3 linked regions of the Homo sapiens genome follow. The protein of the gene in region 3 purifies or fractionates together with the protein of the main gene of each other region. This does not show direct contact. Each region holds a gene or a part of one and is shown on either strand. Other genes may lie near its edges.

Region 1 (3,648 bases), on a different chromosome or scaffold from region 3:
AGGAGCAAAAGAGAATGAGGGCTGTAATCCTAGCACTTTGGGAGGCCAAGGCGAGTGGATCACTTTAGGTCAGGAGTTCGAGACCAGCCTGGCCAACGTGGTGAAACCCTGTCTCTACTAAAAATACAAAATTAGCCGGGCATGGTGGTGGGCACCTGTAATCCCAGCTACTCGGGAGGCTGAGGCAGGAGAATCGCTTGAACCCGGAAGATGGAGGTTGCAGTGAGCCGAGATCGCGCCATTGTACTCCAGCCTGGGTGACAGAGTGAGCCTCTGTCTCAAAAATAAATTAATTTAAAAAAGAGAGAAAATGAGGGGGATGGGGAAAAAGCAGGCTGAAGGTGGGAGACCCCCCGCACCCCCCATCTCTGACTGTTGCCAGCCAGCTGTGATTTTGGAAGAGTTTTGCTAAACCTCTAAGCACTGTTTTTTTTTTTTTTGGTTTTTTTTTTTGAGACAAGAGTCTCGCTCTGTCAGGCTGTGTGCAGTGGTGCAATCTTGGCTCATTGCAACCTTCCCCTCCTGGTTCAAGCAATTCTCCTGCCTCAGCCTGCTGAGTAGCCGGGGCTACAAGCACGCACTACCACGCCTAGCTAATTTTTGTATTTTTAGTAGAGATGGGGTTTCACCATGTTGGCCAGGCTGCTCTCGAACTCCTGGCCTCAAGTGATCCCCTGCCTCAGCTTCCCAAAGTGCTGGGATTACAGGAATGAGCCACCACAACTGACAAAGCACTGGTCTTTGTCTGAGAAAAGGAGCTGGGTTGAATCGTGTCCCCACAAAAGATGTTGAAGTCCCAACTCCGAATCCTTAGAATGTGGTATTATTTGAGCTGGGTCAGGCGGCTCCTGTTTGGTAATAGGGTCTTTGCAGAGGTAGTCAAGACAAAGCCAGTAGGGTGGGCCCAGTATGACTGCGCCTTAGAGAAAGGGGAAACATAGACACAGAGACAGACACAAAGACAGAAGATGACGTGAGGATACAGGGAGAGGCTGGGTGCGGTGGCTCAGGCTTGTAATCCCAGTGATTTGGGAGGCAGTGGGAGGGGGGGCCAAGCGGGGGTGGTAGAGGAGGATTGCTTGAGGCCAGGAGTACAAGGTTACAGTGAGCTATTATTGCGCCACTGCACTCCAGCCTAGGTGACAGAGCTTGCTTAAAAAAAAAAAAAAAAAACTGTCTCGACCAGGCGCAGTGGCTCATGCCTGTAATCCCAGCACTTTGGGAGACAGAGGCAGGCTGATCCTGATCACGAGGTCAGGAGTTCAAGACCAGCCTGGCCAACATACTGAAACCACGTCTCTACTAAAAATACAAAAAAATATTAGCCGGGCGTGGTGGCACACGCCTGTAATCCCAGCTACTTGGGAGGCTAAGCCAGGAGAATTGTTGGAACCCGGGAGGCGGAGGTTGCAGTGAGCCGAGATCGCACCACTGCATGCCAGCCTGGGCGACAGAGGGAGACTCTGTCTAAAAAAAAAAGAAAAAGAAAAAGAAAAATACTGGGAGAATGTCATCTACAAGCCAAGGAACTCTTGGAGCTGCAAAAATCTAGGAGGGAAGCTTGGAAGATTCTCCCTCACTGACAACTGACGCCTTGATCTCAGACTTCTGGCCTCCAGAACCAGACCCAGAAGAGGAAACATTTCTGGTTATTTAAGCCACTCAATCCCTGCTACTTTGTTACAACAGAAGTAACAAACTCATATAGCAACTGCAGTCCTTTCCAGATTCTAGGGATAAAACTGAGCATTGTGAAAATATGGGGCTGGACACAGTGGCTCACACCTGTAATCCCAGCACTTTGGGAGGCCGAGGTGGGAGGATGGCTTGAGGCCCGGAGTCCGAGACAAGCCTGGGCAACATAGCAAGACCCCTGTGTCAACAAGAAATTTAAAAATTAGCTGGACGTGGTGGTGTGTGCCTGTAATCCCAGCTACTCTGGAGGCTGAGGCGGGAAGATCACTTGAGTCCAGGAGTTCAAGGCTGCAGTGAGCTGTGATCATGCCACTGCACTCCAACCTGGATGACAGAATGAGACCGTGTTTCTTTATTTTAATTTTCAATTATTTTATTTTATTTTTTTTAAGATGGAGTCTCGTTCTGTCACCCAGGCTGGAGTGCAGTGGCATGATCTCGGCTCACTGCAACCTCCACCTCCCAGGTTCAAGCAATTTTCCTGCCTCAGCCTTCCAAGTAGCTGGGATTACAGGTGTCCACCACCATGCCTGGCTAATATTTGTGTCTTTAGTAAGGACGGGTTTTCACCGTGTTGGCCAGGCTGGTCTCAAACTTCTGGCCTTAAGTGATACTCCCACCTTGGCCTCCCAAAGTGCTGGGATTACAGGTGTGAGCCACCATGCCCGGCCCCTGTCTCTTTTTAGCCAAAAAGAAAAAAAAAAAAAAGAAAAAAAAAGAAAGGGTCAGGTGCAGTGCCTCAGGCCTGTAATCCCAACACTTTGGGAGGCCCAGGCAGGCAGGTCACTTGAGGTCAGGAGTTCGAGACCAGCCTGGCTAACATGGTGAAACCCCATCTCTACTAAAAAACTACCAAAATTAGCCAGGCGTGGTGGTGGGCGCCTGTAATCCCAGCTACTCAGGAGGCTGAGGCAGGAGAACCGCTTGTACCCGGGAGGCAGATGTTGCAGGGAGCTGAGATCATGCCACTGTACTCTAGCCTGGGTGACAGAGTGAGACTCCGTCTCAAAAAAGAAAAAAAGATATGGAATGGCATAGCAATGTGGGGACTCCGGTGCTCCTGGCTATGGAGGTAAGGAAGATAAGGGGTCTGGATTGGCCTTTGAGTGGGGCTCTGTCTTCAGTTTCCTCTCTTTCTTGGGTGATGAGAAGGCTTCCCGACTTCCCCAGACACCTGCCCCGCCCCTCTGGTCACACCCCCTTGCCAGGGGAGGGCCTCACCTGGAGGGTGCAGCCAAAGACCCCAATCATGAGCATGGCCACGGTGAGGTACTCGGCCAGCACGTCCCACCAGGGTTTGAGCACCTTGAACGCAGGCTGCTGTTCCGTGAACTGCTTGAACTCGGCCACTGGGATCATGCTGCCTGTGGGACGGGACGAGACGGGGGGTGTAGAGAGAGACCCTCAGGATGGGAGGCTCTGCAGGGGGTCCTCCGAGGAGCCGGACACAGGCAGGCCTGTGACCCTCCCTGCCCAAACTTGTCCAAACCACCAAAGTGTGTGCCCCCACTTCCCTCTTAGCCTGGCCTTAGTCACCCTCCATGCAGACGTCACCACCTGCCCAGAACCAAGCGGCCACTGTTCCCCTCTGGGCACCCCTGCACCTGATCTGACTTGTCTGACCTCGAAGAGCACATGAGGGATAGTCCACAGGGCCGCCGCCCTCCAGCCTCCTCGGGTGGCCCCCTCCCCAAAACGAGGCATCCCTCTCCCACCCCTGACACCAAGGCCTGAAAACATCTGCCTCGATGCTCCCTGACTGCAGACACTCAGCGTCTGGGCCAGCCCCGGCTCCCACCGCCACCAGGCCTGAAAGCGTTCCAAGGCTCAGGACTTCCGGGGCGTAGGCCCCTCCACCCCCTCCAGGGGCACTCTGGGCACCACCTCCAACCTCTAACCGGAAAAGCCGGCTGGAGCCTGGCTCTGGTTACTAGGGCCCCAGGGGCAGGGACT
Region 2 (3,648 bases), on a different chromosome or scaffold from region 3:
GCCCCCTGGCGCACGGAGGGTGAGAGGGTTAGATCCACAAAAGCCTTCACCTGGGCACGGTCCACCAGGCTGAGCCATGCCCCATACTGCGGCTGTACAGGGTCCGAGGGCAGGGAGTCTACAGAGAAGATAAGGAAAGGAAGGTAGCCAGTGTTGTCCAAACTCAATGTCTCCTAGAGTCCAAATCACAGACGGGCCTGGGCAGGGCTATGGCTACTTGGAGGGGTCATGGGAAAGGATAAAAGGGGCAGAGGGGCTGGTGTCGGGGCTCATGCCTGTAATCCCTGCCCTTTGGGAAGCCAAGGTGGGAGGGCTGCTTGAGCCAGGAGTTCCAGACAGCCTGGGAAACATAAAGAGACCTCATCTCTACAAATGAGCCAGGCCTGGTGGCACACACCTGTAGTCCCAGCTACTCAGGAGGCCAAGGCAGGAGGATTACTTGAGCCCAAGAGGTTGAGGCTGCAGTGAACTATGATGGCACCACTGCTCTCCAGCCTGGGTGACAGAGCAAGACCTTGTCTCAAAAAAAAGCGGGGGAGGGGTTCTGGCCGTGGTGGCTCACACCTACAATTCCAGCACTTTGGGAGGCCGAGATGGGCGGAGCACTTGAGGTCAGGAGTTCGAGACTAGCTTGGCCAACATGGTGAAACCCCTTCTCTACTAAAAATACAAAAACTAGCCAGGCATGATGGTGTGTGCCTGTAATCCCAGCTCAGGAGGCTAAGGCAGGAGAATTACTTGAACCTGGGAGGTGGAGGTTGCAGTGAGCCAAGATCGTCCCACTGCACTCCAGCCTGGGCAACAGAACGAAGCTCCATCTCAAAAAAAAAAAAAAGGTAGGGGGAGAGAAGGATGGGAGTGAGTGAGTGAGTGGGAGGGCAGCTCACCGAGGTCTCCCAGGGTGACGTGGCCCAGCACATACAGCCCCCCCTTCTTAAGCTGGTTGGCCAACCGCAGCAGAGGCAGGGCGCCCCGGGGGTTCCCCACCAGGAGCAGCAGCTGGGGCCGCCAGAACTTCACGTGATCCTTCCGGACGTCCAGCCGAAGCAGATACTTACGCACCTGGGTATAGGGGTGAGGCAGTGGGGAAGTGGCAGGATCAAATGCACAGCCCCGTTCAGCGCCTCCTGGACGGGAGCACCAACTCCAGCCAAAGAGAGAGGGGGTTCTTTGACCACCTCCCATTTCCCCACCGCCCCACCAGCTCCCCATACCTGGTGGAAAAGCAAGGCCTGGCTGACATAGCCCCAGCTACTGGGGCCTCCTCGCGCGGTGAGCAGGGCAGCCAGCAGACCCATGAGGAGCAGGGAGCCACCAGCCGCGCCAGGACTGATGAGGAACATCATGAGCAGGCAGGAGGCCACCCCCAGCAGGCAGGTGTGCCAGGAGAACAGGCTGAAGGTGGGGCTGCGGGCATGGAGGGGAGGAGGGACAGAAACTCAGGGCAGGCCGCACACGAGGCTGCAGTCCCCAGCCCCACGCCTGAGCCCGAGTCCTCCCTTCTTCTCTCTGGGGACACAGATCTGAGTCTCTCACCGGAAGTTGGGGGCCGAGGCCCACTCCAGGCTCAGGCAGGACAGGTCCACGGCAGCATAGGCCACCAGGTAGAAGACAGTGACCACAGCAGCCAGTGTGTTCAGCTTCCCAGCCAGGAGCACCAGCTGGGCAAGGGCCAAGAGGCGTGCCGTTGTTCCAAAGTGCCAGTGCACCCCCAAAATGCCAGTGAACACCAAAGAATGCCAGTGTACCCCAAAGTGTCAATGAGCCCCAGAAAGTGCCAGTGAACCCTGCAAAGTGCCAGTGCACCCCCAAAGTGTCAATGAACCCCCAAAATGCTATTAAACCCCAAAAGTGCCAGTGCACCCCCAAAGTGTCAATGAGCCCCTAAAATGCTATTAAACCCCAAAAGTGCCAGTGTATCCCCAGTGTCAGTGAACCCCAGAAAGTGCCAGTGTACCCCCAAAGTGTCAGTGAACCCTGGAAAGTACCAGTGAACCATGCAAAGTGCCAGCGCACCCCCAAAGTGTCAATGAACCCCAGAGAGTGCCAGTGCACCCCAAAGTGTCAATGAACCCTGAAAAGTGCCCGTGAGCCCTGTAAAGTGCAAGTGCACCCCCAATGTCAGTGATCCCCAGAAAGGGCCAATGCACTCCCACAGAGTGCCACCAAACCTCCAAAGTATCAGTGAACCCCCACAAAGTGTTGGTACATCCCACAGAGTGCCAGTGAATCCCTCAAAGTGCTGGGGCACCCCACAAAGTGCCAGTGAATACTGAAAAATACTAGTATACCCCAAAAAGTGTCAGTGAACCCTGCACAATGCCCGTGTACCCCAAAAAGTGCCAGTGAACCTCCCAGGGTGCCAATGAACTCTGCAAAGCACTGGGGCAACCTGCAAGGTGCTGGTGAACCCCACAAAGTGCCAGTGAACCCTGCAGAGTGCCAGTGCAACCCCAAGTGCATACGCATTTGTCTTTACATTTGTCTCCCAGCCTGCATCTAACTGCACCCCCATCCTGCCAGCTGGTGGGGTGAGGGAAAGGGCCCCTTGAAGAAGAAGGCTCACCTGCACCAGGCCCCAAGAATAAAGTACAGCTGCCCAGGGGTTTCCCCCTCGGGACACAACCTTGGCCGGTGCCAAGATCACGCCTAGAAAAACAGAATCCACAGCAGACACATCAGCCAGGGCTCAGCGGGGACGGAGAGACAGACAAGGGAGGGCGTGCTCCAAGCCAGCAAGGAGGCAGAGAACCCACCAAAGAGGTCATCCCGGGCCAGGGCATGGAGGATGCGGGAGGCACCAATGAGCGAGCTCATGGACGCTGAGAGCGCTGTGGCATAGATTCCGATCAACACCAGTGGGGGCCACAGGCTGATGGCGCGGAAGAACCCATAGTCTTCCTGCAGCAGGGTCCTAGGAAGGAGGAAAAGGAGGACACGGATGATCATGCGTCACGGGGTAAGAAAATCTCCAGCCCCGATCTTAAGGATCAGACTCAGATATCAAATGTGCTAAAGGGATATGCCTGGTATTCATTGGGCAGCCTTGGATTTAATCACTCAGTGGTCATTCCTTCCTTTTTTTTAAGAGACAAGGTCTCACTCCAACCCCCAGGCTAAAGTGCAGTGCTGTAATCATAGCTCACTGCAGCCTCGACCTCTTGGACTCAAGCAATCCTCCCACCTCAGCCTCCCAAGTAGCCAAGACTACAAGCATTTGCCATCACACCTGGCTAATTTTTGTATTTGGGGGGAGGCTCTTGCTCTGTTGCCCAGGCTGGTCTGGAACTCCTGGGCTCCAGCGATCCTCCTGCCTCAGCCTCCCAAAGTGCTGGGATTACAGGTGTGAGCCACCGCACCCGGCTGTCATACCTAATGGTATATGCACAAGAGGCCAAATATTTGTGGAAATGCAAACTGGGTAGAAAGCCACTACCCACCCTCACTCCCAAGCTAAGTGCCTGCAACAGTACTGGGTCCATGGCAGCTGCTGGCTATAGGTTGTCAATCGCCGGTAGCCACCCTCCACCCCAACAAGCTGGGTTTCTGCTTCCCAGTCCCCCAGCCTGTGTTTCCCCTTGGTGACCCAGGTGCACCAATCTTGTTCGACACTCCACCCCCATCCCTCCCCAGACACCTGTCACAAGT
Region 3 (3,748 bases):
CTTCAGCTCACAGGTGTTTTTTTTTCTTTTTTTAAAGGAATAATAGACTGTTAGAGCTACAGGGGACATAGATAGGATCTGATGTGACCTTTTCATTTTATACACGGGAAAACTAATTCCAGGAGAATGATGTGGCTTGCCTAAAGGCATATTATATGTCAGCTGTAGATCTGGGAGTCTAAATGGTCTCGTAACTGTTTACTACACAAGCTATAATACCTCCCTTAAGTGGGTGTAAAATTGTCATTGTGAAGAACTTTTCTCTTCATGAATTTGGGTGCAGAATATACCAGAGAGGAATTATATAGACTAATTCCTACCCTTATTAAAAATAGTTTCTCTCAGCTAATTTAGACACCCCCCTTCTGAAAAAGAAATCAGTTTACCACCATAAACATAGGAAAAGAACCTCTAATTATATATGTTGCAAAATAAGTGATATCTTTTTCTTAATTTCAGATAAGCTCTTATTCACATTTTTTCACTCTATCTCATGTGCTGTTTACTTCCTTATCTCTCAATCTGCACCTGCTCAAAAGAAGCTCAAGTTATCTCAGTCATGTCATTAATATATATGATTATATATTATATATAACTATATATTATATATATGACTATATATTATATATGTAACTATACATATAATATATATAGTTTTATTTTGTTTTGTTTCAACCTCATTTTAATGAAAGGGTCGGAGCAACCACAGTAAATGTCTGATTTTAAAACTGAATACCTATCTTGGACTACAAAATAGGCAGGGATAGTTTGTGTTATACTCAGACCAAGTTGGTGTACAGGAAAATCTCAATGCAGGCAGTGGCCAGGGGCTGGAAAGTGACAACAGGATGTGGAGAAGTCTCTCAAAGTGTGGCCACCTCACCCCAGATCACCTGATGTGCTTATTTAAAATGAGGCTCCACCTCAGACCTTCTGAATCCCATTTTCCTGGGGGTGAGGTATGCATATTGCTCCCAAAGTAAGTTTTCTGCATGATTCTTAGGAACATTTAGATACGAGAACCCCAAGAATAGAGGGAAGAAAAATAGAAGACGAGCTAAAGGAAATGATAAATAGTTGTGGTTACCATTCATCTCATTTGAGGCAAGTCCTTTTAAGTCTCAATTTCCCATCTGAGCTCATTCTATTTTCCCTCTGTTCCCTTCCATTTCTGAATTTCCCCAATTCTAAGTTTTTCTCTGAACTTTGAGCCTGTGAAAAAAGAAGGGATGCTGCCTCAGGCCACCCCAGCCTAGATACTCACTCTGAGTGCCATGAGGTAGTAGAGGACACTGATGACAGTCATGGGGAGGAGGTAGAATAGGAAGGAGGTGACCTGGATGATGAAATTGTAGATCCACATGGGCTTGATGACCGTACAGGTGGCCGAACCTGGGACCAGGGACCCATTGGGGAAGTAGTGGAACTTGATGCCATGGATGCTGGTGTTGGGCAGGGAGAAGAGCACGGAGAAGCCCCAGACGATGCCGAGGATCCTGAGGGCCCGGCGCCGGGTGCTCTGCAGTTTGGCGCGGAACGGGTGTAGGATGGCCACGTAGCGCTCCACGCTGACGGTGGTGATGCTGAGGATGGAGGCGAAGCACACGGTCTCAAAGAGGGCCGTCTTGAAGTAGCAGCCCACGGGCCCGAACAAGAAAGGGTAGTTGCGCCACATCTCATAGACCTCCAGGGGCATTCCAAGGAGCAGGACCAGGAGGTCAGAGACCGCCAGGCTGAAGAGGTAGTAGTTGGTGGGCGTCTTCATAGCCTGGTGCTGCAGAATCACCAGGCACACCAGGACATTGCCAATGACCCCCACCACAAAAATTGGCACATACACCACAGACACGGGGAGGAAGAAGTGGCTGCGCCGAGGTCCGCAGAGGAAGGCCAGATACTCCTCGGTGCTGTTCAGGTGTTTCTGGAATGGATCTTCTAGTTTCTGCTGGTAGATCCAGGAAGCATTCTGAAGTTTTTCCATCCCTGACATTAAAATCCAAGGCCTGAGCCTCCCCTGGTACGAGGCTCTGTTTCAAGCTGAGCCAGGAAAAAAAAAAAAAAAAGAAAAAAGGAAAACAAAAAAGAGAAAGCAGTCACGAAAGTCACAGGCTTCGTAAGGAAGGCTGGGAGAGAGTGAGTGTTTCACCCTCCAGGTTAGGCTGCCTGGACCGCCGATCCCTTTTGAAGAGCCCCGGAGACACAAGCCCCTCCCCTTGACAGGCTGAGGGCCAATGAGAGTGTGTTAGGCTGCACTGGAGGAGAGGGGTGCTGGCTTCGAGTCAGGAAGCAGGGGAGGAGGCAGAGACCTCTCCCTGAATGGGAAGGAGCTGGGAAGGCAGAGCTGACACAAAAGAAGCCACTCGAACTTCATGGATGGGCACTTTGAGCAATGCAGGTTGCAAAGTTGTGGGAATCTGGGTAGACATAGAAATTAAAGTTGCAGGGCCATGGGCAAAAGAATACCAATCTCCACTAACCCTTGTCAGCCGTACAGCATGATGAAAATAGGAGATCAATAGATTTCTCAAGTTATCTTGTTCCACTGGAAATTCAGGGTTCTCTGGGGATTAATGTGATAACATGATTAATGTGACTTTTTGGTTTTAACTGCATCAACGATAGAATCCGAAGCCTGAAAGGGCGCATGCACAGTGCCTAGCCCTGACTGCTAACTGACTCTTCAGTCTCAGCAGAGCTTTGCTGTAAGCAAAAGGCAAATGGACTTCAGAATTAGGAACACTCATAGAAATTTAGGAAAGTTGGCACAGTTACCCAAACTCTTAGAGGCTTATTTCCTTATCTGCATCATTAATTCGATTGCGTTCCACAATAACTTCTTGAGGATTCACTATTTGCCAGGGAATGTTCTAAGCTTTGTAGAAACACTAGTGTACAAGCAAGACAAGGTCTCTGCCCTAGTGGAGCTTTTCTTGCAGTAGGGAATTCTGAAAACACACAAGCAAATGAATAAATTAATAATATAATTTCAGATAGTAATTGATAAATAATTATTTATCAAGGATGGTGAAAGAAAACTTATCTCAGGAGATGTCACTTTAGCTGAGGTCTGAATGATGAAGTCAGTCATGAAAGAGCTAAGGGAAGTGTATTACTCAGCAAAAGTAATAGCAAGTGCAAAGGTCCTGAGGCAGAAACAAGCTGGATAGGTTTTAAAAATATCAGGAAGACCAGAATAACTGGAATTTAATAAGTGGTCAGCAAAGTATGAATGCTTAGATTGAAGTGGCTGGCAGGTACAGGTTCATGTAAACTCTTATAGGCCATGGAAGAGAGTTTAGCTCTGATTCAAATGGCAGGGAGAAGTCTTTAAAAGATTTTGCACTGGAGAATTAACGAGGGAGAAATTTTAACAGAAGGTAGGTAAGAGGCTAGTAAGACATAGTAGTGGCTTGGATTCTATGAGCAGTGGAGTTGAGAGATTTCTTTGGATTTAGGAATATTTTTGCAGGAGATAATACCTTTTATGGTCATTGAGAAGACTAAATTAAATTATATATAACGAAGCAACTTATACTTAAGAGATGCTCACTAAATGTTAATTTTTTCCCTTTATTTGTTAAATCAGATTATGACGTTAAAAATTAGAGAGGGAAAGTGACTTGTCCAAGAATAAGTCATCTCTCAAGTTAAGATAGTTTACGCTGCTGTAACAAATGATTGACATATCTTGGTGGTTTTAAACAATACAGATTTATTTCTCTTGTACTTCAAATGTATTGAGGGTCTG

What was found.
Region 1: the proteins of NMUR2 (region 3) and LRRC8E purify together in Homo sapiens (affinity purification with mass spectrometry; 2 studies listed by BioGRID and IntAct, with this or other methods). This does not show direct contact.
Region 2: the proteins of NMUR2 (region 3) and SLC12A9 purify together in Homo sapiens (affinity purification with mass spectrometry; 2 studies listed by BioGRID and IntAct, with this or other methods). This does not show direct contact.

Annotation. Positions count from the first base shown.
Region 1 is NC_000019.10:7,895,010-7,898,657, reverse strand, and holds part of LRRC8E (volume-regulated anion channel subunit LRRC8E), read right to left. Parts: exon of another isoform or gene 3,319-3,648; intron 3,060-3,318; 5' UTR 3,055-3,059; coding exon 2,917-3,054; intron 1-2,916. UniProt on the Homo sapiens protein: Non-essential component of the volume-regulated anion channel (VRAC, also named VSOAC channel), an anion channel required to maintain a constant cell volume in response to extracellular or intracellular osmotic changes.
Region 2 is NC_000007.14:100,859,151-100,862,798, reverse strand, and holds part of SLC12A9 (solute carrier family 12 member 9), read right to left. Parts: coding exon 3,638-3,648; intron 2,915-3,637; coding exon 2,757-2,914; intron 2,650-2,756; coding exon 2,567-2,649; intron 1,662-2,566; coding exon 1,537-1,661; intron 1,408-1,536; coding exon 1,215-1,407; intron 1,063-1,214; coding exon 888-1,062; intron 119-887; coding exon 1-118. UniProt on the Homo sapiens protein: May be an inhibitor of SLC12A1. Seems to correspond to a subunit of a multimeric transport system and thus, additional subunits may be required for its function. May play a role in lysosomal ion flux and osmoregulation.
Region 3 is NC_000005.10:152,403,124-152,406,871, forward strand, and holds the start of NMUR2 (neuromedin-U receptor 2), read right to left. Parts: upstream 2,157-3,748; 5' UTR 1,991-2,156; coding exon 1,265-1,990; intron 1-1,264. UniProt on the Homo sapiens protein: Receptor for the neuromedin-U and neuromedin-S neuropeptides.